Regions from separate parts of the Homo sapiens genome. Here regions 1 and 2 are each linked to region 3. Evidence: fine-mapped expression QTL. A gene starts in region 3. Each other region holds a variant in brackets. All regions are shown on one strand. Distances are from middle to middle. Region 1 has its middle 27 kb from the start of LMO4. Region 2 overlaps LOC107985408 (a long non-coding RNA gene). Region 3 holds the start of LMO4 (LIM domain only 4).

Region 1 (8,184 bases), 28 kb after region 3:
CTCAAAACTCCCCTTTGATGAGGCCCCAAATATACGAAGGGATCAAACTCCATATAGACAAAAGGATTTTCCCCCTGACTTTGGAGTGATATCTTGTTACACTAATGGCTCTTGACAGCTGTCATAAGACCCTTCATTTACAATCTTCAGAAAAAGGGAAGCTAGAGTCTGCCATTGAAACCTCAGTGTTTCCCAATCAGAAACAAGCAAGCTTGCCTCTTAGAAAGAGACAGGGACTAAGGTAAGGGAAAGTAGAGTAGATTTAAGTGAAATAGGAAGTTTCAAAATCCTATGTTTGGCTGAGCATGGTGGTGGACGCATGTCATCCCAGCACTTTGGGAGGCCGAGGCGGGAGAATCGCTTGAATCCAGGAGTTTAAGACCAGCCTGAGCAACAGAGTGAGACCTTGTCTTTACAGAAAATTAAAAAAATTAGCCAGGTGTGGTGATGAGCACCTGTAGTCTCAGCTACTCGAGAGCCTGAGGCAAGAGGATCGCTTGAGCTTAGGAGGTTGAGGCTGCACTGAGCTGAGATTGAGCCACTGCACTCCAGCCTGAGCAACAGAATGAGACGCTGTCTCCTTAAAACAAACAAAACCAAAAATAACCCCATATATTTGATATGATCTCATTTTCATTTTTGAAAATAAAATATTTGCACATATGTGTATATATGTGTATGTTGAGCATTTTAAATTTGAAAATCCGAAATCTGAAATGCTCCAAAATCCAAAACTTTTTGAGTGCCAGCATGATGCTCAAAGGAAATGCCCATGAGAGTATTTTGGACTTTGGATTTTCAAATTTGGGATGCTGAACTAATAGGTATATATAATGAAAATATTCCAAAATCCAAAAAAATTGGAAATCTGAAACACTTTTTGTTCCAAGCGTTTCAGATAAGGGATATTCAAACTGTATATATAAAAAAGCTTAGAAAGCTTATAGACCAAGGTGTTAATGATGATCCTTCTTTTTCATTAACTATATTTAGTGCTTTTCTCTAATAAAATATGCATCATATTTATAATATGGAAACTTTTAAAAAATATTTTTCAAAAACGGAGATGTTAAAAATTACTGACAGCTTCTGCATCTGTAAAATAGGAGTAATAATAGACCTATCTTATAGGGTTGTGTTGGGGACTAAAGGGGTTAATATACATTAAACACATAGTTCCTGGTCCCTGGTAAGTATACATAGCTTTTGGCTATTATTATTAACTAGGAGGACAATTATCTTACCTGTTTCACTTAAATTAATGAAATTTATTTAAAAATAAAAATAAAAACATGTTTTTAAATTATTGCTACATATTGCAGCTGCTTGAGAGCTCTGAGGATGAGGCCTATCCTCTGTTAAGAAAAAGAACTAAATTATTTTAAAAGTGTTAAAGATACATAGCACCAACTGAGATAGTCTCCTAGAATTAATATGAAGGATTGAAAGTGCTTTAAATGGAATAACTTTCTTATTAAACAAAGCAATATATTTTAATAACTGTGTCCATGGAACACCCCAAATCACCTTAACTATAGTGTCCCACCCTTAGGACACATTGATAAACTGTTGGTGCCTAATGTGGAAACTGGACTATGGGACAACATGTGGATTCAAAGACAGGGGTATCAGGTTGGTTAGTCAGATATAGGATACAGGATCTCATTCTTCTGGTTTCAAGCAGCTAAAAATTCAGTCATTTTGGTAAAATCTTGCTCTCTTCGTTGCTGTGGCAAGGTGTGGTGTCCATGTGAGGCAGCTACCCTTTCCCTTTTCCTCAACTTTTTCCTCTCCTTAAATGCCCTCCCTACTTCCCACTGGGCTTCCCACAGGAAAAGGTGAGCCAGATCCCTGCTAGGCACTGCGAGCAAAGTTGCTCTGTCTCTCTGGTTCCTTGTTCTTGTCTGCTGTACAGTGGATCAGCCTTTTCTAGCATCCTAACGGTAAACTCCAAAACTGGTGCGTGGGTGCGGAGAAAGAAAAGAGAGCAAACATTCAAGCCTGCTGCCATCTAAGGCTACCCAGAGAGAGAGAGACACATCAGAGGGAGTCCACCTTCCATGCGGTCCAGCCCAGCCTTCCAGATTTCTCTGCATTGGGATTGAAGGCCAAAACTCTGGCTAATAATTAAGTATAATGTCCATTCATTTCTTGTTCCCCCTCATTTTCCCTCCCTCAGAGTGACAGTGCCTCATCAGAAAGGATTTCAGGATTCCTGGGTCCCTGAACATAATATCATACAATATCATCCCACGGTTACCCCAGCATTAAATCGTGACCTACTGGCTCTCTCAGGGGACCTTCCAGAGCCAGTGTGGCTCTGACTGTGGGACCATCAGGCTCAGTGGCAGGTTGTGGGAGGAGACTCTTGAGCACAGGTGGTTAGCCACGATTCGATGGGGTGGCTTCATTCCAGAGTGTGAGCTTGCCGTGCAATTTTGGAGGAAAACTTCCGGAGGAGGCATTTATGGTGGAGTTTTTGCTTTGTTGCCCATTCTGTGACTCAGATGGGAGGACAATCAAAACTAGGACAGACAACAGTCTGACAGAAGTACCCCAGGCACATGCCTGGCCAGCACCTGTCAGGATTAGAGCAGCCTCTCTGGAAGTCTTTTTCAGTGATGTGAAGCCAATGCCATTTTTTGTTTGCTTGTTTTTTTTGTTTGCTTGTTTTTTTTGTTTGTTTGTTTGTTTCTTTTGAGATGGAGTGTTGAGATGGAGTTTGGAGTTGTTGCCCAGGCTGGAGTGCAATGGCGCAATCTCAGCTCACTGCAACCTCCACCTCCTGGGTTCCAGCGATTCTCCTGCCTCAGCCTCCCAAGTAGCTGAGATTACAGGTGCCTGCCACCATGTCCAGCTAATTTTTGTATTTTAGTAGAGATGGGGTTTCACCATGTTGGTCAAAGTGGTCTTGAACTCCTGACGTCAGGTAATCCACCCACCTCAGCATCCCAAAGTGCTGGAATTACACGTGTGAGCCACTGCGCCTGGCTAACCAATGTGGTGGTTTTTTTTTTAAGTTTTCAAATTGTTTTTTTCTATTCAAAATGAAAATAGCTTTATTGAGTTCTACAAAAATGATACATAGTTTTTCTATATATTATTTATGTATATCAATCTAGGTTATGTTCTTAGAATGTCAATAAAAATATTCGCACTGCTTTTATCAGACACATTTAGAATGACGTGTCTCTGTTGGTTTAAGACATTTTCATGATTTCCAGTTGTTCTTCGGGTGAAGACTAGTATTCATGCTTCGCCTTCCTTTTCATCTTTATCCCTCCCATGCCCCTTCCCTCTGTGTTGCTGCCACAACTGAAGCCAGGGTTAGTACATTCCCCTCAGGACAACATCCAGCAAGGCCCCTTTCATCTCCCGGTGTACACTGGTCCAGGTCTCCTTCATGGGCCTCCTCATCCAAGGTTGAAGATACCCACTCTGCTTGGCAAGGCAGGCAGCGGAGTCCTATAGCCCAAAGCAGCCCAACTGAGGCCAGCTTTCTGGAAGAATCCACAGCCGGGGCAGCACTGCATTCAGATAGCTCTTCTATCAGACTCATTACCAGTGATTCTGGAAAGCTCCTTCCCTGAGTTTTCTCTTCAAATGTCTTTGCCATACCTGAGCTGAAGCTCATCATTAGAAAGACAGGAAGGCTGAAGAAGCTCAAGAGGTGGCTTTTTGCCACTCCAGGCACTTCACAGCCAGCATTGTCCCTCTACCTCTCCTTGACCTCCAGGCCAACAAAAGGATGAAGACAGGAGCTGCCGACTTCCACTTGGTCCATACTTTTTTTTTTTTTTGAGATGGAGTCTTGCTCTGTCGCCAG[G/A]CTGGAGTGCTGTGGCGCAATCTCAGGTCACTGCAACCTCTGCCTTGGTCCATAATTTCACAACAAACCTATCTCTTGGGCAAACTGAGAACCTCAAACCCCCACTACCCAGAAATGGAACCCAATCAGTGTCCCCAGTTTACCACAGGATTGCCTTTTAAAAATCACTCCTTGGGCCACCTGCCCAGCATCTATCTCCTCTCAACCTTCTATGATCTGACTGGTAGACTCAGGGGTCCTGAGAAACTGCATCTCTGAAAGTTTGAAAATCTAATTCGTGCTACTGTTGTTCAATGATGGTAACTCATAACCACTGAATTGGAACTCATTAGCAGGGCAGCATTAAGGAGTTGCTGCCGCATTTGAAATCCATTTCTTGGGGGAGTCTGATTGCCTTCAGGGACTTTCTCATGGGGTGATTGAAGTCACTCCCTTTAGAAAACAAAGTATTCTATATAACCACCTCAAGGCCCCAGCCTGCTTTCTTTTAGGAATTTAACAGAGGCTTATATAAGGTCCAATAACTGAATTAATTAAGAGTAAAATGAAGATGGTGACTTCATATTTCTTTGGTCAGTGAAAATTTTAACATTCTCATAACCCTTTTTATTCTCTCTTCTCTTTGTGAATGCTAATAGAAAAATCCTTTTTAAATGGTATTTTGTTAGCAGGGGCTATGCCGACAACTCCACAGTATCTTCCCACAGATCACTGCTCACATCATTCAGATGTTGAAAATTTTAAATGAAATCAATACTGGCCTATTCATGTCAACAGCACTATCCCTGGTGATGTAAAAATATAGAGAGAAACTGCAACCCAGGCTACTTACCCAGCGCTCTTTTCATTACAGGTCGTCAATTAAATTATTTCTACAATATTGTATCCGTCCACAAAATGTTACGCAATATTCATGCACATTACTTCAGCTACACAGAATCCCTGTAAAATAAATGAGGGCGGGCAAGGAAACTGAAGAGACCTAGTAAAATAGGAAGGCATTTATAGTAAGTCCAGTCACTTGGCCGCCAAAATTGCCCCCACGATGATGCTTTTATTATCACTTGAGAAACAGCAATGTCTTCATTCTTGTGATTCCAAATTATTCCATGCTATAGGAAAGAATATCCTCAGAGAGATTTCTTGTAACAGTGAGTGGGAACTGTAACTAGGAACTTGAAAGTCAGCCTCGTTTGCAATGGACCAAGCTGGTGGGCTTTCAGAGAAGCTGGACGTGTCTCTGTTTCCCCGGATTCAGTTGCAGCGCCAGATTCAGAACCAGGAGCCCATTACCAGTCAAATCCTCCAGGCTTCATTGATGATACCCCAGGAGGTTCTGCAGCTCCAATTGCCCCTGGCGCTGAGCAGGGGAAGCCAGTGGACTGTGCTAAGGCTTGGCCCCGGAATTAGTGATCCAGCCAAGATGCATCTCGGCAGGAGGATGAACTGATTGAATCAATAATTTCAATCACTGCCTATTCCTGGTAGAAACCAGGGAGGGCAGAGGAGGACGGGGGAAGGGAAAACCCACAAGCCTGGAGAGGCCAGGGCTAAGCCCAGCCTGAAAAGAAAACAATGAAAACATCCCCATAAGGAGAAGAGGATTGGAAAGAAGAAAAATGGACCAGGTTCACTGAGTAAGTGCCTAGGAATTATCCTCACCTAAAAGAGCCAACCTGCAAGCAATCTGCCATCTGAAAGCCACCTCCTTCTATGGGGCATAGAATTTTGAGGCTTTTATTCTGAGGATGATGATTACTATGGGTTTGGAAATGGCCCACAAAGCCTGCTGCTCCCAGTGCCTTGCCTGTGACTTCCTCAGCTATGTGGCCATCTCTATATGGCTATGTCAAGCCACATGATCTGCCTAGGCCTATTTCCTCCTGTTAGCTATATGACCTTTTTAGGCCTATTTTCTGCTCTTGAAAGGGAAGCCTGAATCAGATAACACTTTGAATCCAATCCTTCTGGGACTAACATTGGAGAATTCTGTAGGCCCGAGTTTTAGCTTGCCTGCTGCCATCACTGCCTCTCTGGCTGGTCTGGTCCTGTCTGCAGTGGAACACAGGCACAGATGGTGAGAGTAGCAGGAGCTGCCTCCTTTAGTAAGACTAGCTGCCTTTTATTGAGTGCTTACCATGGAAGATCTCAGCCAAGTTTAATCCTCCTTGGAACCTCCTGAGGCATTATGTATGTCCCCATTTTATAGATGAGGAAAGTGAGGAACAGAGGAGTTAAGTAACTGTCCTAAGTCACCGAGCTAGTTCCTAGCAGATCCAGAATGAAAACCTGAGTCTGTGAGGCCCCAGAGTCAGAGCTTTTAATGGCCAGAGTATACTGCCTCTCTCCCTCTTTGCTCCTTAATGGAGCAACTTGGGAATTAAGTGCCTTCTTTTGCAGGGTGACCTTCAGCCACCAGCTGGAAATCCAGGAGGGGCCTCAGCCAAGTTTACTCTCGGCACAATAAGGAAGCAGAGGGCTCCCAGGGACGTTCTTCCTCACCACCCATCTTCTCTGTCTTCCATTCCCTATGCCCTGCCTAGGAGTCTCAGCTTCATCCGCCTTATCCATGTCCCGGCCATCTTTGCTGACACAATCCTCTCTTCACTCACCCCCAACACCTAGACCCCAGGTCAGAGGATGCTAGCTCCAGGTCCCCATCCTTCTGGGCCTTGTTCTCTGCTATGAAGCTGCCAACAAGTTATGCCACGGGTGTAAGCATCAGGTATAGAGCCTTTGATAGCGTATCCCATGCCCCCATTTGTTTAGAACACTTTGGAAAACAATGCTTTTAATTCAAAATTGCAGGTCAGAATTTTTGGCCTCAGGAAAGGTCATTTGAAGGAGACTTGGGAGAGGAGCAAGTCTGCTACATCTGCCACCAATCCAATCAATGACAGAGGGTGTCTTAGTCTCATTGAGTTGCTGTAACAAAATACCATACATTAGTGTCTTATAAACAACAGGAATTTATTTCTCACTGTTCTGGAGACTGGGAAGTCCAAGATCAATGCACCTACAGATTCAGTGTCTGGTGAGGGCCTGGCTCTAGATGTGTCCTCGTGTGGTAGAAGCATCAGGGGAGTTCTCTAGAGCCTCTTTTATAAGGGCACTGATCCCATTCACAAGGCTCTGTCCTCATGACCCAATCATCCCCCAAAGCCCCAACTCCTAATACCATCACATTGAGAATTATGTTTCAATGTATGAATTTTGGGGAGACCCAAACACTCAGATCATAGCAGAAGGCTACTCCAATCACTCACGAAACTCACATGACCCACCCCAGGGACTTCTCAGGTCACGTTGCAGCAATTGAAACACACCGAGAAAAGAAAGCTTCAGTCAGGAAGGCTGTTGGTGGCTTGAGCAGTAGGAAATAGAGAATAGGAACAGATGACATAGGAGGTGGCCTGGCTCTGTTTCTAAATGCCAGAGTGGGAGTGACCCCCAGACTTCCTGAGAGATCTACTTGGAGCGTGTAGCACATAATTAATGGAGCCCACAATTCCAACACACTGTTTTTCAATTCAATTCACCAAAAAATTTTTAAGAGCTTGAATGCGTAAGGTCCTGGTCTTGCATCTGGAGATGTGGACATGAATAAGACATGGTCTCTGACCCTAAAAACCTTAGAGTCTAGTGGGAGAGACAGACACACACAGAAGTAACCATGATACAAAGCAAGCGGTGATTAGTGCTAAATAGAGATATACACAGAGGACTGTGGGGGCTCAGAGGTTGGCTGATTATACTGTCCACAGAAGGAATTTGCAGAGGAAGGGACCTGAACTGGGCTTTCAAAATAAAAAATGCAGAAGCCTTGTGATATGGTTTGGCTGTGTCCCCATCCAAATCTCATCTTGAATTATAGCTCCCATAACTCCCACATGTCATGGGATGGACCCAGTGGGAGGTAATTGAATCATGGGGGCAGGTCTTTCCCATGCTGTTCTCATGATAGTGAATAAGTCTTACAAGATCTGATTATTTTATTTTATTTTATTTTTTTGAGATAGAGTCTCACTCTGTCGCCCAGAGTGGAGTGCAGTGGCATGATCTTGGCTCACTGCAACCTCCACTTCCTGAGTTCTAGTGATTCTTGTGCCTCAGACTCCCAAGTAGCTGGGACTACAGGCATCCACCACCATGCCCAGATAATTTTTGTGTTTTTAGTAGAGGCAGGGTTTTGCCATGTTGGCCAGGCTGTTCTCAAACTCCTGACCTCAAGCAATCCACCCACCTCAGTCTCCGAAAGTGCTGGGATTACAGCCACCGTCTCAGCCAAGATCTGATGGTTTTATAAACAGGAGTTCCCCTGCACATGCTCTGTCTTGCCTGCTGCCATGTAAGACATC
Region 2 (8,184 bases), 180 kb before region 3:
GGCTTACTTTGGCAATTTTTGAAAAGACTGAAAAATCTTAGAGTTTTTAATAATCTTAGATAATTTTGAATAATCCCAGAATTTTGCTGAGACCCTTTATCTTCATTGTAGTGGATGCTGTGGTGTGCTGCCCATATCCACCCTACTGAGACTAAGACTCATTCCCTCGGCCACCAAAAGGGTTGACCATACATAGTGCTCAGCTGAGTCGCTCTCTAGGAGTTGCCTTAGATAGCCACCTTACCTAGGATGATACCCCATCCCCTAGGGCCACCCACATCTCATGATGAGTCAATGTGATCCCCTAGCCCCAATACAGGGCAACTCTGCAGAGCTATCCCAGCTCCAGAGGTCCCCAAAGGAGCAGGGCCACAAGATGCCTAGGCTTTTTGTAACTGCATCACTATTTGACTTCTCGCTCTCCTGAGTCCTGTTCCCTTCCTTCCCTGCAAAGCGAGGGCACTCACTACCCAGTGCTCTCCCAGAAACTTCTTCCTGAGGAACCTGACTGACAACATGGGTATATTTTAAAGATAATGGATTTCTAAACCAGAATCAAATACACAGCAGTGTGAGGACTTGTTTTCATTCTTCTTTTCAATATGACTGATAATTTTAAGCTTTGGGCTAGAGGGAGCCTGCATTCTAGAAAATGGTTTTCAGAGGTGACAAGGGAATTTTGTTGAGCCAGGTAAAGAATATATAAACTTTGCTCTTTCAAACACACTTAATTTTACAGTATTAAACACGGTATCATCCTGAGCCCCCTGCCAATTCTGCATCAGTTGACGTGTGAGGCCCTGTATCAGAAAAGGTAAAGAAACTGCTAATACTCCCCAACCACTCTAATTTTTCTACCCTTTCATACTCACTCTTTGAGTTTCTCATCTCCTCTGAAGGTCAGCCCTGGGGGTTTCACTCTCCCACTCTCCTCTTGATATCTTTGAAGACAAAATCCTGACTGGTGGTGTCAAGTCTTATCATCTTTTGTGTAGTAATGAAGCCAGGAGGGAGAGTAAGCACATGTTTGACAAATCCAAGATGCAGCTCCTTCCTCCCTTCTGTCCTGGCTGGCACAGTTATATCTAAGCATCCAGCCCTCCCGCAAACAGGTGTGAGCTCAGAATGCCCATGTTCTCCTCCCTGTGTTCTTCCATCCTGTACAATTCTTCATGCCTCTAAACCTGTGATTCTTGTTCTGGTTTTGCAATACCTGGGGTTGTCTCCATTTATCTCCAGGGATGTTATAAAAACCAAAAATGATTGAAATAGAGAGGATTTTTAATTTATTAACTGAGAAATGGATATTTCCGATAACACTCTTAAAAGGGAGGGAAAGTGATATGAACTCAAGATAACAGCCCTAAGTTTCACAACTCCAAAGCTATTATGAGTCATTTTATCAGTCTGACCCACAATTACTGTCTGTGTCTCTCTGATTCCATTTATGCATCCAGTGAAAAGACAGGAAGACTGCAGGACGATTCCGGAGTGGTATACTTTTGAAATCATTAACTATATCAACACTCTTTCCTCAATAAAGTGTGAAATACCCAAATAAAATTGTCACCCTTTAGCCAAAACACTTACATGTCTCTTTGGTGGCCATGGTATGTTACTTCATTTTTTGCAAATGGTTGCTTAGTTATAAGCCTGTAATTTTAATATCCATCCATAATGACCAGGTAAAACACATAATCTGACAAAAATGTTGAACCAGAGGGTAGGAGTGTAACTATAAGAGAAAGAGGACTGGGGTGTAGGAAACGTAATCATATAATGGCTTGACGTTCTCTATTTTCCAAAGGCTTTATTGAAGCATTTCTCTCAGTAATGCTGCTTTTGCAATTACATAGCAACAAAGCATTTGAAATAACTTTTTTGACATACTAAGTATAAAAACTTAAACTGAGGTGGGGGGTTTATAGAAAGCAACTTTCTTCACATGCGTTCTGCTCAAATGCTAAATGCTGCTGCAAATAACAGGAAAGATACATTCTCAAAGTTAGGACAGGCTATGTCTTGGCTGGGAAAGGGTTAAATAAAGGGAACCCGATTCCAGCCAGTCAGGGACTGAACATCCAATGAGAATTTATTTAGATGATGTAATGCTTGAATCCTGATATCCTTTTGAAAAGAGCTTGTGGTTGAAGTTTCTATAAACCAGACTGAACTGGAATTTCCTCCCAATCCAAGAGTCTTCTCTGCCTTCTGCACCATTTTCTTAGTAGTGTCGTACATTTTCTTTCCTAATGTTTGACAAAAAGCACATTTGTAACTATGGTTTGCATTTGGATCCTTTAAACGATGCTAGTCTGTGGCTTTTCATAGGCCTCTTTAATCCTTACTTGGTAATGACACAGGACTAACTGCTTAATAGAAAATTCTGAAAGACACCATCTCATCTCTGCCACCTTACTGACTAAATGCTGGCTCTTTCCATTTATGGCCTTTCCACTGATCTCCAGAGTTGGGAGGCTCATGACAAATGAAGACAGAGACCAACACTTTCAGCTACATAGCAAGATGGAAAGTTCCTGAGGGCTGTGTGGCAGCTATGGTTGCATTATCCTCTTTTCCACTAGGATGCTGTTGACAACCAAATAAGTAGAACAGTTCCAGATGACAGCAAGTCTGGTGAACTCAGGACACCTACTCAAGAAAGCTCTGAAACTCTGTTCACTCTCTAAGAACCTTCACAACTATCGTTCACTGACCTAGGGACAGACAGTTGTACACATGAAAAGACAAGGGCAATGTGCTCGGGGCTTTGTTTTAAGCTGCCTTTAAGACTTAAATCCTGGAGCTATCAAAAGAGTTAAGTTCATGAAATGGCAGGAAAGTTAAAGATTCTTAGAGCATAGCATAAATTGGCACATCTTCCAACTTAGTTGAGAAACAATGACCTTATAAGAACTATTTTTAGACTTAAAGAAACCTTTTTCTTAAAGAATTAATTCATCATTTACTACCCCGTGAAATCAAACCTCAAAATCTTGTGGTTAACCAATAATCTCTTCCAACTTGTTCCATTTGGAATAAACTAAAAAATAGCCACTAGTTTTCAAAAGTAAATGTATGCCAAACATCATAGCAATAAATGGGCTAATATATGTTTAGAAACAAAAACCTATAAAAATTGAAGACACTGCTATTTTTAAGATGGCTGGCTCTCATCATCATTATTGTCCACCTGTAGCATAGTGTCCAAGAGGACAGGAACTACCTCCTTATTGTAACCCTAACCATTAGCACAGTGCCTAGAACGTTATAAATACTTGATACAGATTTGATAAACTGAATTTAAATTTGTATTCACAAATATTTAGTAAGCATCTATTATAGAAAGCACAGTGCTAATAGGTGATGGCAAAAAGAAGTACAAAGACAAGTTTCTACCTTCTTTAGGAGAGGACTCAGTGTAATTAATCTCGAAGAGCTTGTCAGTCCAAATCACAGGGATGATTGTTGCAACCACAGATGCCTTCTGAATTGGGCTAGACAGTGTTAATAAGTGCAAGCAGGCTACTAATTTTAAGACAATAGGGTATCATAGGGATAGTAGAAAACTAGAGTGCAATCCTTGCTTAAAATTATAGTTA[T/C]TCAACTTCAAATATTTTGTAATCACTGAACTGACAAAAATAGTTTTTTCAAATTTCTAGCAGATTACTGAACCATGAAGAGGAATGAAGTTCTGATACAAGCAACAACGTGAATAAACCTTGAAAACATTATGCTAAGTGAAATAAACCAGACAGAAAAGAACAAATATTGTATGATTCCACTTAAAATATCTAGAATAGGCAAATTCATAAAGACAAAAAGTAGATTAGAGTTTACCAAGGGTTAGGGGGAGGAGGTTTTGCTTAATGGTTACAGAGTTTTTGTTTGGGGTGATGCAAAAGTTTTGGAAATAGATGATGGTGATGATTGCACAACATTGTAAATGTAATTAATGCCACTTAATCACTCACTTAAAAATTGTTAAAATGGCAAATGTTACGGTATGTATATTTTACTAAATTTTTTTTTAAATTCTGGCAGATTCTATGCAATCTGACTGCCCAGTTGATACTTTTGATTCCTAGCACAAGGCTTTGTCCAATAATTGTTTGTCAAACACAGTCGACCCTCCCTATCCCTATGAGTTCCACATAGGGGATTCACCCAACCTCAGATAAAAAATATTTGGGAAATAATAAAAACTAGCATTACAACAATAAAAATAATACAAATAAAAAATACAATATAGCAACTATTTACATAGCATTTCCACTGTATTAGGTATTACAAGTAATGTAGAGATGATTTAAAGTATCCAGGAGGAGGTACATAGGTAGTACACAAATTTTTTTTTTTTTTTGAGACGGAGTCTCGCTCTGTAGCCCAGGCTGGAGTGCAGTGGCGCGATCTCCGCTCACTGCAAGCTCCGCCTCCCGGGTTCACGCCATTCTCCTGCCTCAGCCTCCCTAGTACCTGAGACTACAGGCGCTAGCCATCATGCCGGGCTAATTTTTTTTATTTTTAGTGAAGACGGGGTTTCACTGTGTTAGCCAGGATGGTCTCGATCTCCTGACCTCGTGATCCCCCCGCCTCGGCCTCCCAAAGTGCTGGGATTACAGGAGTGAGCCACTGTGCCCGGCTGGTATTACATAAATCTTAAGTCATTTTATACAAAGGACTTGAGCATCCTGAGGATTTTGGTATCCGTGGGCATCCTGGAATCAATTTATCAAGGAGCAACTGTAAATAAAAAGTTTTCCCCACCCCCATGACATCACAGAGTTTAGTGGGAATAACACAATATGTTGATTCACACAGCTATTGTCTGGCTATTTACTAGCTATGTAACCCTGGGTAAATCACCTGATCTCCCCATACCTCAGCTTCCCTGTCACTAACATGGGGATAATAATCAGGCTTACTTCCCAGGATTATAGTCAAGATTGTATGAGATAATGCTTGTAAATCTCTTTTCACTGTGGCGGGCTTATTACTATTATTAGCCTGTTATTAACATTAGAAGACTAATAAGAATTATTATTATTATTAGGAAAACTAGAAAATGAGTTGCATTTTGCTCTTAACATAATGATTTATTTATCTGACAATGGTTTTCTTAGAAACTACAGACACATCAGTCGGGCGTGGTGGCTCACGCCTGTAATCTCAGCACTTTGGGAAGCCAAAGCAGGTGGATCACCTGAGGTCAGGAGTTCGAGACTAGCCTGGCCAACATGGTGAAACTCCGTCTCTGCTAAAAAATACAAAAATTAGCCAGGCGTGGTGGCGGGCCAGCTACTCGGGAGGCCGAGGCAGGAGAATCACTTGAACCAGGGAGGCAGAGGTTGCAGTGAGCCAAGATCTTGCCACTGCGCTCCAGCCTGGGTGACAGAGTGAAACTCCGTTTCAAAAAAAAAAAAAAAAAAAGAAACTACAGACACATCAAGGTAGAGTTCACAATGATGTTTTTGAATAACCAAAGACATTACTGACCTACTGAAAATCCTTTAATGACTTCCTGTCATTTTAAGAAGTCCCAAATCCTATAGCACAGGCCTGTCTTCACCTTTTCAACCTTGCAGTGATCACTGTGGCCCCACCATCATCCATTCTGCACTTCCTAGCAGCCCTGATTTCTGTTTTGTAATCTCTGTGATTCCAGGGAAGCTGACTCTTCCCGAAGCTCCTGAGATAGACCATCTGGCCCAGGCCAGGCTAAGCAGGCCATTCCTGCCTCCTCAACACGGTGCATGGTTCAAGACAGGGCATGTGACCTCCACTGCTCCAATCAGGGTGATTCTCAGGCCTCGTACTAGGAATACCATAACAAGTTTCTTTCTCTTCTGGATGGTATGGAAGGCAGGTATGAAAGCTGGAGCTGCTGCAGTTACTTCGCTACCTTAGGAGACACAAGTCAATATGTGGGGGAGATAGGGCCAAGAAAACTAGAGAGCAATAAAGAGCTCTTGTTAAAGTTATGAGTAGAGCCAAGCTACCTCTGAAGCATTCTGTTTATTGAGCCAATAAATTCCTTTATGTTTGCAACCAAAAAGTCTTAACTGTTTTTTTAAGTCTCATCTTGCTGCATGGTTCTCCACCCTGCATTTCAGCCACACTAATCTGATTTGTATTTTAGAACCCTACTAAGCTCCTTCTGATGAAGCATTCTCACCAATGCGCTCTCTCTCCTTGCATTGTTTGTTTACCACCCTCCCTCCTGCCATTTCCCTACTCCACTTGCCCTGATTAATTCTTGTTCATCCTTAATAAATAGTTCAGCTCAAACGTCATTTCTCCAAGAAGGCCTTCACAGATCTCTTAATTTAGGTCAAGTTCTCCTAAACACCCATAACAATCTATACTTTTTCATAAGATTTATCACCATGGTAATCAGATAATTGTCTGATAAGTTGACTGATGTCTACCTTCCATGCTTGACCATCTTGTTCATTGCTGCTTTTTTTTTTTTTTTTTTTTTGAGATGGAGTTTCACGCTCTTGTCGCCCAGGCTGGAGTGCAGTAACATGATCTTGGTTCACTGCACCCTCCACCTCCTAGGTTTGAGCAATTCTTAAGCCTCAGCCTCTGAGTAGCTGGGATTACAGGTGCCCACCACCACGTCCAGCAATTTTTGTATTTTTAGTAGAGACGGGGGTTTCACCATGTTGGCCAGGCTGGTCTTGAACTCCTGACCTCAAGTGATCTGCCCGCCTCGGCCTTCCAAAGTGCTGGGATTACAGGCGTGAGCCACTGTACCCGGCCCCACTGCTGCTTTATCCCTAGTGCCTAACACAGAGCCTTGTCCATAAAAATAACATTACATAAATATTATGTTAAAAAATGACTACCTTTTTGTCCTCAAGGCTAATTCTTAAGTCTTCAGGAAAAGCAAAAACATTTTATAAGCAAACCAATAGCCAAGAAAAGAGGAGTTAAGATAAGAACAAGCTGCTGATTCTTGGCTATGGATGAAAAACTACATTCAACAAATCCTGGTTGGGCACCCGTTCTGTACAAAACAGGGACTACAGTATAGAAGACATCAGCCCTGCCCACCAGGAGCTCTTTACTGGCCTTTAATTAGCTGGGCATAGAGAATGCTGCTGCTATCAGATTCCAAGTCTCATCTATTACTCATTGCTTTGGTGCTTACTTCAAGCAGGGTCAAACCTACATTTAGCCTTTAAAAAAAAATTTGGCTTTGCCTGTGTCCTAAATAGCAGAAAAACACATGCTCTCAAGTCCTCCTTTCTTACAATTTCTTTTGAATCTGCCTTTAATCTCTAATGCTTAGAGACAAAGAGAAGAGCATTAGTTGCCTTCAAGCCTACCCTCTCCAGGCGTACAAAAGCATGTTGTAACAACCCACTGTCCACATGCAAGTCCTACTCCAATACCATCCAGCAGTAGGAGGTGACCAGGACTTAGGACTAAGGCACGATTCTGGGCGGAAAGTGGGATCCAGAAGTCAGAATCCATTTTCGTTCCAAACCATACAGAATAGTGATGGCTTTGGTATCCGAGAACAGAGCCAGGCATGGAATCACACAGACTCTCATTCAAACCTGGGTTTTGCTATGTAAAAGTACCTCACCTCTTAAAGGAGACGAGATAAAATATGTGGAACACTTTGCACAAGTCTGGCACACAGCACTCACACATTTTTAGTGCTCTTATTATTGTTAAATCCTTTGGGAGAAAAGATAACAGATTAGAGTGTAGACTTCTTTCCCTCAGCTTTTGTTTTGAGCTCAGGCTGCTTTATTCAGTGATGACCTGTATTGACTTCATAAGCAGATACTTCCTTGGAGATTTTAGCTATATTTTCCCCCTGGGCCCACTTTATGCTGAAACAGTAGCACGGATGGTGAGACAGTTTAATGCCATTGCCTTACCTCCTGATAACAGTGTGGTTGACATGTCAGCCCTCCATGTCAAAATATTATGACAACCATAATAAGTAAAATAAATTAAAAACACTTATTGATTTTAAGTGTTATCATTTCCTTCTACTATCAATGACATAAGATGTCAAATGTGATATATTTGAAGTATATTTTAAGCAAGATAATTAATGAATTGGATTTTGGAGTTGATTATTTAACATACTTTATGCAATTTGATGAAAAATCCCCATATGTAGACACAAATCAACAGAAGCTCCTGGCCATGAATATTGTA
Region 3 (8,184 bases):
ATGAGTTTAAGTAGCTTGAGTTCACCTGAAAAGATCCTATAGGCACCTGACCTCCTGAATTCTTTCCATTAATTGCACTGCAACTTGTTGGAAAAGACTGCTTACATGGACATATGAATGTTCCTATACATTGCTTTAAAATGCAAGATTAGTATAATTCTATAGCCTTTTTCTAAATCTCTTTTGGGGATCAAGGGCAGTGATACAAACGACAACAAAAAACCCAAAACCTGAACATGCTTCAATTGAAAAAAACTGCAAATTCTACATCGCAAACCACACACTAACTGAATTATTGCAAGCCTCCGAGTAACAGTATGAAGAGAAACATTACCACCAGGTTTTATTTCTTGGGACTTTTTTTTTCTCTATAAGAAGAATTACAAGTCTTTAAACTGATGGATAATTAGCATTTTTCTCAAGGAGCACAAAGAACGAATCACAGCCTTCCGCTCAAAAAAGTTTCAAGATGCTTATGTAAATATCGTTAATAAGCCATCGCCATAGACAAATCATTTCTCACTAACTACACTTGTATTTTTAAGTCAACCTTTGTTTCTGGGTTCCTCTGTGAGTTCCTACCTTGTTTTAAGAACGCAGCTTAACTCCCGCTTGGGATGTTTGCTTTTAGCCTGAAGTCCAGTAGAGGCTGACCACTTACTTAAACTCTAGGACCAGAGGGTGCTCAACCTTTGCACATCTAATGACCCAGTCCCACCAGATGGTCTTTACTTAGTATGGCATTTGCCATGAATTTGCCATCAGATATTGGAAGACTAACACATGCTTCCTGAACCCCTTAAATTCCGCCAACTAGAAGATTTTTGAGGTGAAGGCTGCATACTCCCCGTAGACGCCTACTCCTTTCCTCACAACCCTGTTAACCTTTGGCCTTGCCATTGCTCTTCCCCCCATCTCCAGGAAAGACAGCAAAGTCTTACCTAATGTAGTCATTTCTGCAAAGGATCATGCCACTTTTGGTGTAACAGGACGTGCCGATGTCGCCCAGCTGCGCCTGGCAGCAGGAGCACTTGAGGCACCGGCTGTGCCAATAGCTGTCCATGGCATAGAGCAGAAAGCGGTCCGCAATCTTGCCCCCGCAGCCTGCGCACCGCTTCCAGGAGAGGGAGCCGGCCGTCACCGGGGGCGGCTGCGAGCTGCTGCCCGGATTCACCATGGTCTGCAGAGGGCGGGAAGGGGACAGGGAGAGAAAGACAAAACAGGGGCGATGCAAAAGTTAGTAATCGCCGGAGAGAGAGCAAGCCCATTCCCCTCCTCCCCGCGGAGCTGCTGGAAGGAAACAGCAGGGCAAGGGCGGGAAGGAGGCTGAGGGGGAGAGGGAAGAAGGGAGGCTCGCCGGCAGCAGCCGCCTGTTTACTTTTCTCAAGCTTTGTTCTGGGGCCACGAGCTCCTCTCAACTTTCCTGCGCTTGCCGCCGCTGACAATTTCAGCTCCGGTACTGTCAAAACTCCGAGAGCAGGCTCCGCTGCGCGCTCCACCCCTCGCGGCACCTCCTCCCAGCCCCCGCCTCCGCCCACTGCCCCCTCCTCCCCTCCTCCGCCGCCCGCCTCCAGCAAATGAGGGTCAAACCCACCCACCGCCGCGCCCGGCCCCTCCCCAGCCCCCGCCGGGCCCCGGGACAGAGCCGAGAGGAGTGGGGAGGCGGCGGCCCCGCCGGAGCCTCGTTCCCTCCCGGGTTCTGCCCCGGGAAGTGCAGCTGCAGTTCACAAGTTGGAAATAGTTCGGTTTTCCGAAAGGGAACGAGGGAGGGACCGGCAGACGGGAGACGGAGAGCGTGGTGATGGGAGGGAAGGCAAGGTGACGGGAGGGGTGGGTGCAGTGTGTAAAGTTGCGAAACTGGTTTTTCGTATTTTAAGCAGCACCTTTCACATGCCATTGTGGTGACCGCCATCTCCCATTATTGTTCCAAATCTCATTTCATTTTGAAGATCAATGAGTGTTTTCTCTGGGTTTTCAGGACACAGGCAAGAATAATAGATCATTGAACTTTAGGATGCCTGTTAACTTCCTATACAAACACTCTCCACTTTGGTCTCACTAATCTGCCCTTGATCAGCAATTTAAATGCTAAAGCTTTGTTCCTCCAAAGGGCGGGGGGGGGGGGGGGGCGGGCGGCGTTACAGATAATGTGCGAGAAGGCACCATTAAGGGATGCACAAGTTAAATTCGAGCCCGTCCTGCTGTCACCAAAAACTGCTTTAAAAAAGAATTCCCCACTCTAATGAATGCCACAAGAGATGCAACTGGGATATAATATAGGAATCAATTTATAAAGCTTAGCCTAAACCGATTAATTTGTTGCCTTCAATCCCGAGTCCAATAAAGTCCTAGTGTTCCTCTAGTCACTTATTCTGTAAAAAGATCAAGTTATTTACTGCCAATTAAGCAGCCTGTATTGTCTTTGTCCTCTGTAAGCTGAGAGTGTGGGCTCCCCCTGAGGCTCCCGGCTATCTGCTCAAGACATTCAGCTGATACCTCAGAAGAAGGCGAACTTTGCCTGTACCCGGCCCAACTTGGCTGCTGCAAAAAAAACGAGGAAGGAACGAAACAAGGACTCGGGTTCCTTAAATAGGCCGATTTTAAACACATTTCCTCCGAAAGAGTCCCGGAACGTGTGTCCAGTGACCGCACAATAAACCAGAATAAGAACTGCACCAATTAAGCTGTAACAAAACCCTGAGACTTTGGAAACAGGACCACTCTAAAACCCATTAGCATTGCATTTATCCGAATGCATCATACCTTTATGTAAATTGATTTATCTGATGCATTTACTCGAGGAATTGCTTTTTGTTACAATTTCAGCCCTAACCCAAATGAATCTGCATTTCCTGCCCTAGATCTTTAAACTGTTTCCCCCAACGTTTTAATCGCTCCGAATTCCTTTTTAAAAGGAGAGTGAGGGAGGAGATTCCAAGCTCTTCCCCGCCCCCATCTTTAGTGAGAGGTAAATATATATGTATTTTTTTTTTGAAAAGGAAACATTACACTGAGAAAAGCATCCAGTAACCCCATTAGCTAAAGCTCTTAAGGACAAGCAATACCTTAATGCTGATTAAATCTAAAAGAGATGAATCAAGAAGACTGACCAGAAACTGACTCCCCTGATAACTAAGGACGGGCCCTCATCAAGTTTCATTTAGAGTTGGAAAAAAAAAAAAAAAAAAGAAAGCTTTTAAGTTAAATAGGCTTATACTCTAGTAATTACATAGCCAAGCAATTTAGGTCCTGGGATAGTCAGTGAAATAGAAAGCAGAACTGGCAGCTAGAGGCAAAATCTGCCCCCCTTTAACAACGTCTCTGGTGTTTTTTAATGGAGACCAAGGGAGGGACAAACGTAACGCTGGCAATTTGTAGTACAAAAATGGATGCTTAATTCATGTCTTGATTTTAATTAGGTGATTCACCGTATTTCTCCTGGATTGGAACAAAAGACTTATAAGCCAAGAAGAATTTTTTTAAAAGAACCAGCAATACCGAATCCTGCTCACTTAGATCCTTCCTGCCACTGTTTCAAAAATAGTGTTTACTAGAAGGGAGGGGGGGTATCGTGACTATCCCCACCCCCACCCCCCCAAACACACTACTTCTCATACTTAAAATCCTCATCTAAGCACCCCTTGCCTTTCCCTTATGAACTAGAAATATCCCCACCCCCTCTACGGTCCCCACCAGCCCCGTTTCCAAGAAGAGCCCTTTTGTAAGCAGGAACCGCTACAAAGCTGGCGGCCCGGGGCTGCCCTCCGCGCTAGCTCGCAGGCCGGCCTCGGTAGTTTCAGACTCGCGCTTTATCTAAGCCGACGTATTGTTTACTTGCAATTTGGGACGGTCAGGGGAAGGAAGCCAAAGAAAACAGCCCTGGCCCGAATCGACCCCCTCCCTCCCTCTCCCACCTCCCGGCCCGCGGCTCTCCACCCGCCCCCTTACCTGCTTTTCCCCTATATTGCAATATTGCGAGAGGCGGCGGCGGTGAAATGCGAGCGAAGCCGCTCGGCTTCCAGGGAAGGGGCGCCTGGGCTGGCGGAGCTGGAGGGAGGGAGGGAGTTCTCGCAGAAGCAGGAAAGGGGAGGAGGGGGCTAAGGGCGGCTTTTTTTTTTTTTTTAAATCGCGTTGCTCTGGGGCGGGTTGGGGGGCCCCCGCGTAAGTGCCGGGCGGCCGGGAGCAGAAGTGTCAGTCTCAGTCTTCGTCCTTCTCCGCCTCCGACTGCGCGCGAGCAGCTGCAGGAGCCCTCGGCCCGCGCGGCGCGGCTTCAGGCGCGGCGCAGCGGCAGCAACTGCTGCAATCGCTGCTGCAAGTTTGGCAATGTGGCTTCACTTTGTATATTCCCCCGCCCGGGGGCCCCCGCCCCCGCCCGCGCTCCTCCCGCTCCTCCTCCTCCTCCGCCGCCGCCTTCCTCCCTCCCGCGCGCTCGCTCGCTTGCTCGCTCCGGGATGGCAGCGGCGGCTCGGCTGAGCTCCCTGCACCTCCGGCCGGGAGCAGTCGCAGACACAACAGCCCCGGGAGCGGCGGCGGACGGTGCGGAGGCCGGCAGGCAGGCGCACCCAGGCGTCGGGGGCTGCGGCCGGCCGGGCCCGGCGCGCTGGAGCCTGCGCCGCTGCCGGGGCTGTTGCTGCCCGGCTCGGAGGCGGCGGCGGCGGCGGCGCTGGCCTCTAGCCGGCTCGCTCGCTCCCTCCGCGGCTCTTACACATGTGTTACTGACAGAGCAAAATCCCAACTACTCCCCGGCTCTGCCTCCGACGTCAGCGACCCTCAGCCACTGGGCGGCCGGATTGTTCAGGCGGAATAATAAAACCTGCCAATCCGGGGAAGGACAAAGGGATGACTGAAACGAGACTCGGGGGGCGGGAGAGAGAGCGAGGCGGCAGAGCTGGCCGACAGAGGAGAAGGGAAGGGCCCGAATCAGGTGGGGTGAAGTGACCCGGGCGCCTGGGGCCGGGGACCCGCTTGGGCTGCCCTTCGCGACCCGGGATCCGGAGTCGAGACGCAGGGCGGGGCCTCACCTGCCTTCTCAGCGCACGGGGACCCTGAGGACCCGCGCCCGCTCGCCCCTCGGGGACTGCCATCCCCTCTATCTGAGAGGAGACCCTTAGGAAACTTACCATCTTTCTCAGAAATGGGTCTCTTCCTGTTTGGGAAGATAAGTCCTGCATCTTAGGGCAGTGGACTTCTATCCCCTCACGCACAAGCACACAGAAGAGGATTTTTGTTGTTGTTTCTTTAATTCACGATATTGGAGATTTATGAACCGTAGTGGAAGCTTAGTTAACAAGGTAGAAACATAAAGGAAATAATAGTTGCTAGCTAAATACTGCCTACTTAGCCTCCCTCATACTCCCATTTTTCCGAGTTTGAAAGTGCCTAGCAGGCATTTCCTGGATCCTTGTCAATTGCTGGTGATGTAGGGAGCACAGTCCTTATTTTCAAAGTTGACGAAAACTTAAGGGAGAAAGCCTTTCCCGACTACCCTCCTCACTGTGGAGGATGAGAGGCGGAAATTCTCACAGCCCCCAAAAGCAATGGAAGTAATTGCAAGATTTGCAATCTCACAGCCTCTAGAGAGTAAGAAATGTCACTTCTAGTATAAATCAAGTTTTGAGGAATGCTTTTAGGGTGCTAGCCTGAGAGTCTTTTTCCAAGGCCGAAGCACAGCCTAGATGCTTGAATACCTAGGCATTCGACTTTATCTACTCTGCCAAATAGGTTAAATAAATCTCCAGACTGAGGCTAATATTAGGCCTGATTATTGTTAGTAAGTTCCAGAGAGATTTTTCTGGTGGAAATTATCATGAAAGTGCAAAGCCCTTCTGCTAAGTATCATTAAGTAAAACCAGCCTTGTGGGGCAAGTTTTCATATTGTGTTACACACAGTACTGCTAGATTGAGGAAAGGAACCTGAAGGAGAATCTGGCGAGACAATGCAGATGTTGAACATTTAGGGTTTTAGTGTCTATTTGGGGGATTTCTGTCTTTCAAACCATCAAAATTAATAAGGCTGCATAAGAAAGAATAATTATTGCCCATACAGTCAGGTAGAGGGCATTTTAAATATCAATTCAAATACTCATTTTTTAATTCTAGCACCTTAAAATTAAATGAATTAATTTTATTGATTTGTATTTAAAGTTGCACTGCTATGATGAATTCACCTTGTGCACATATAAAAAACTTTTTTTAAAAAAAAGTCATTAAAACTATAATAGTAATTAAAATGTCCTACACAGAAAACAGCTACAGATGGGCATGATTAAAGAGGACCAACTTAGAAAAGATGTAATGCTGCTTGAAGGTTAGTCAAGAAAACTCAATTAAACCAGATGAGGAGAGGAACACCATAAACAAATAATACATTTGAATCCCCTGGTTCATTTTCACTTTTTAAATAATTTATAATAAAAGGAGATGACACAAGATCTTAGTGGGCTACAATTAAGTTATGATTTGTCATGTGCAAGTAAATTTCCGTCTCTGGGCCTTAATTTTCTCATCCACAAATGAGAGAATTAAGCCAAATGGTCTTTATTTTTTCTTTTTAAAAATGATTTTCTTAGATAGAGCACATAATGCATAGATGTATAACGAATTGTGGTACTTTTCAGGATTTTTCCTGAAGAATATGCACTAAAACGAAATCTTAATTCCTGAAGGAAATGTTAGAAATTTAACCAGACACATGTTCAGCTATCATTGAGTGATTATCCAGAGGATCCCGGTGGTGTTTGTGGAAGGAAGGAGAGTGAGATGGATAAAACTTTGAATAACAGAGCTCTAGGCTACAGGGCCTACATTTTAGGAGGTGGTTTTAGTGCTTCAGCTCTAATTCTGTGCGGAGTGAGGTCTTTAAACATGTCCTGGTAGATTGGAGTGGATGGGAGTGTATTACCAGAGAGCTTTATTTGCTGATGTGTGTTTATAGAAATACAAAAGCGATAATGGCTAACAGTCTCTCTTCTGAGAGGTAGGGAGTAAATACATTCACTGTAATCAAAATTCAGGTGTACTTTTACCACAGCGCCACCTCTGGGTAATCTTTATTTCTGCATTCTTTGCGTTTAGCAGTCCTTTCTCATCCTGATTTGTGGTCTGAAAATGCCTGGTTGAGTGGGTAGCAACGTCAATCTTTTATTTCCACTGATGCGAAACACAAAAACCTTGTAAACACACACAAATTCAGTATGGGTAAAGAAATTCTGTATTCGGATATTCTTCAAACAAATATTAAAAACAGTGCATAAAGTAATATTCCTGGTATGAAGTAAAATTGCCTAACTCGAAATAATGTTATATTGTGCCCCACAGTTGACGAAACCTCTGCTGATATCACACATTCATCATTCATCCTACTCATCTGCAATGAGATATAAGATTAGGGGGCTTTGGAAAAGAAAGATAAATGTAAATCGTTTCTTTCTTGAATCCTAATTAAATGTGGGAACCATACTGCTCCTAGATCAAGCCGTCATTTTCTCCACTTGCCCCAAAATTATTTGTTCATAGCTTCCTTTCTCGTTTATGTCCTTCAATCATAATCATTCTTTTCTCCAAGTGACAGTTCGCTAAGAATCTCCCATGGACAGCCAGAGGTTCTACACAGACCTATGCAGCCTTTAATGTCTGGAGAAAGTCTAGGCTATTTGATGCTGATATGACCTCCAAGACAACATGCCCCAGCTCTTTCTCAGGAAAAAATATTCTGTCCTTTTAAAGTCAATGCAAAACCGTTTTTGAAGAAAGTCTTTTTAGGAAGGAAAATTTTTAAAAATCTGCTCAACTTTATTGCTGCCATCACAGAGATCCCTTGATATTCAGTTTCCTCCAACGTGAATACAAAAAGCTTGAGTCTAGGACAACAATTCCAGAGTGTAAAAGGTGTGGAGAGAAAAGGGAACAGTAGTTACCAACAGAAAAAACCCAAGGAAGAGGAAGGGCAGGTTAGGTCCTGGGCCAGTTTTCTGTGGTGGCGTTGTCGTCTGAGCAGCAGGGTGTATGGCACAGTAAGTATAGTCGGACCTGCTGCTTCATTTAAGAATAGGAGTTTACAGGCCCAGTGGCCCACGCCTATAATCCCTGCACTTTGGGAGGCCGAGGCAGGTGAATCCCTTGAGTTCAAGACCATCCTGGGCACCATGGCAAAACTCCATCTCTACTAAAAATACAAAACTTTAG

The links. PIP is the estimated chance that this variant, and not a neighbour inherited with it, causes the effect.
Region 1: its variant is fine-mapped to the expression of LMO4 in monocytes (TOPMed, PIP above 0.99).
Region 2: its variant is fine-mapped to the expression of LMO4 in whole blood (TOPMed, PIP above 0.99).

What each region holds. Positions count from the first base shown.
Region 1 is chr1:87,297,347-87,305,530 of GRCh38, reverse strand. No RefSeq gene overlaps it. Among named protein-coding and RNA genes, the nearest start is that of LMO4, 27 kb to the left of the region's middle. The variant G/A (reference allele first, on the strand shown) is at 3,827.
Region 2 is chr1:87,507,384-87,515,567 of GRCh38, reverse strand. All of the region lies in intron 2 of LOC107985408 (a long non-coding RNA gene), which reads right to left. Among named protein-coding and RNA genes, the nearest start is that of LINC01364, 140 kb to the right of the region's middle. The variant T/C (reference allele first, on the strand shown) is at 3,603.
Region 3 is chr1:87,325,009-87,333,192 of GRCh38, reverse strand. It overlaps LMO4 (LIM domain only 4), which reads right to left and starts at 4,313. Exons shown (of 5, transcript NM_006769.4): 1 at 3,949-4,313; 2 at 942-1,180. The coding sequence starts at 1,177. RefSeq lists enhancers at 553-1,191, 1,192-1,830, 1,831-2,469, 2,139-3,684, 3,250-3,825 and 1 more and silencers at 1,523-1,882, 3,249-3,338, 4,262-4,691, 4,942-5,111, 7,081-7,130.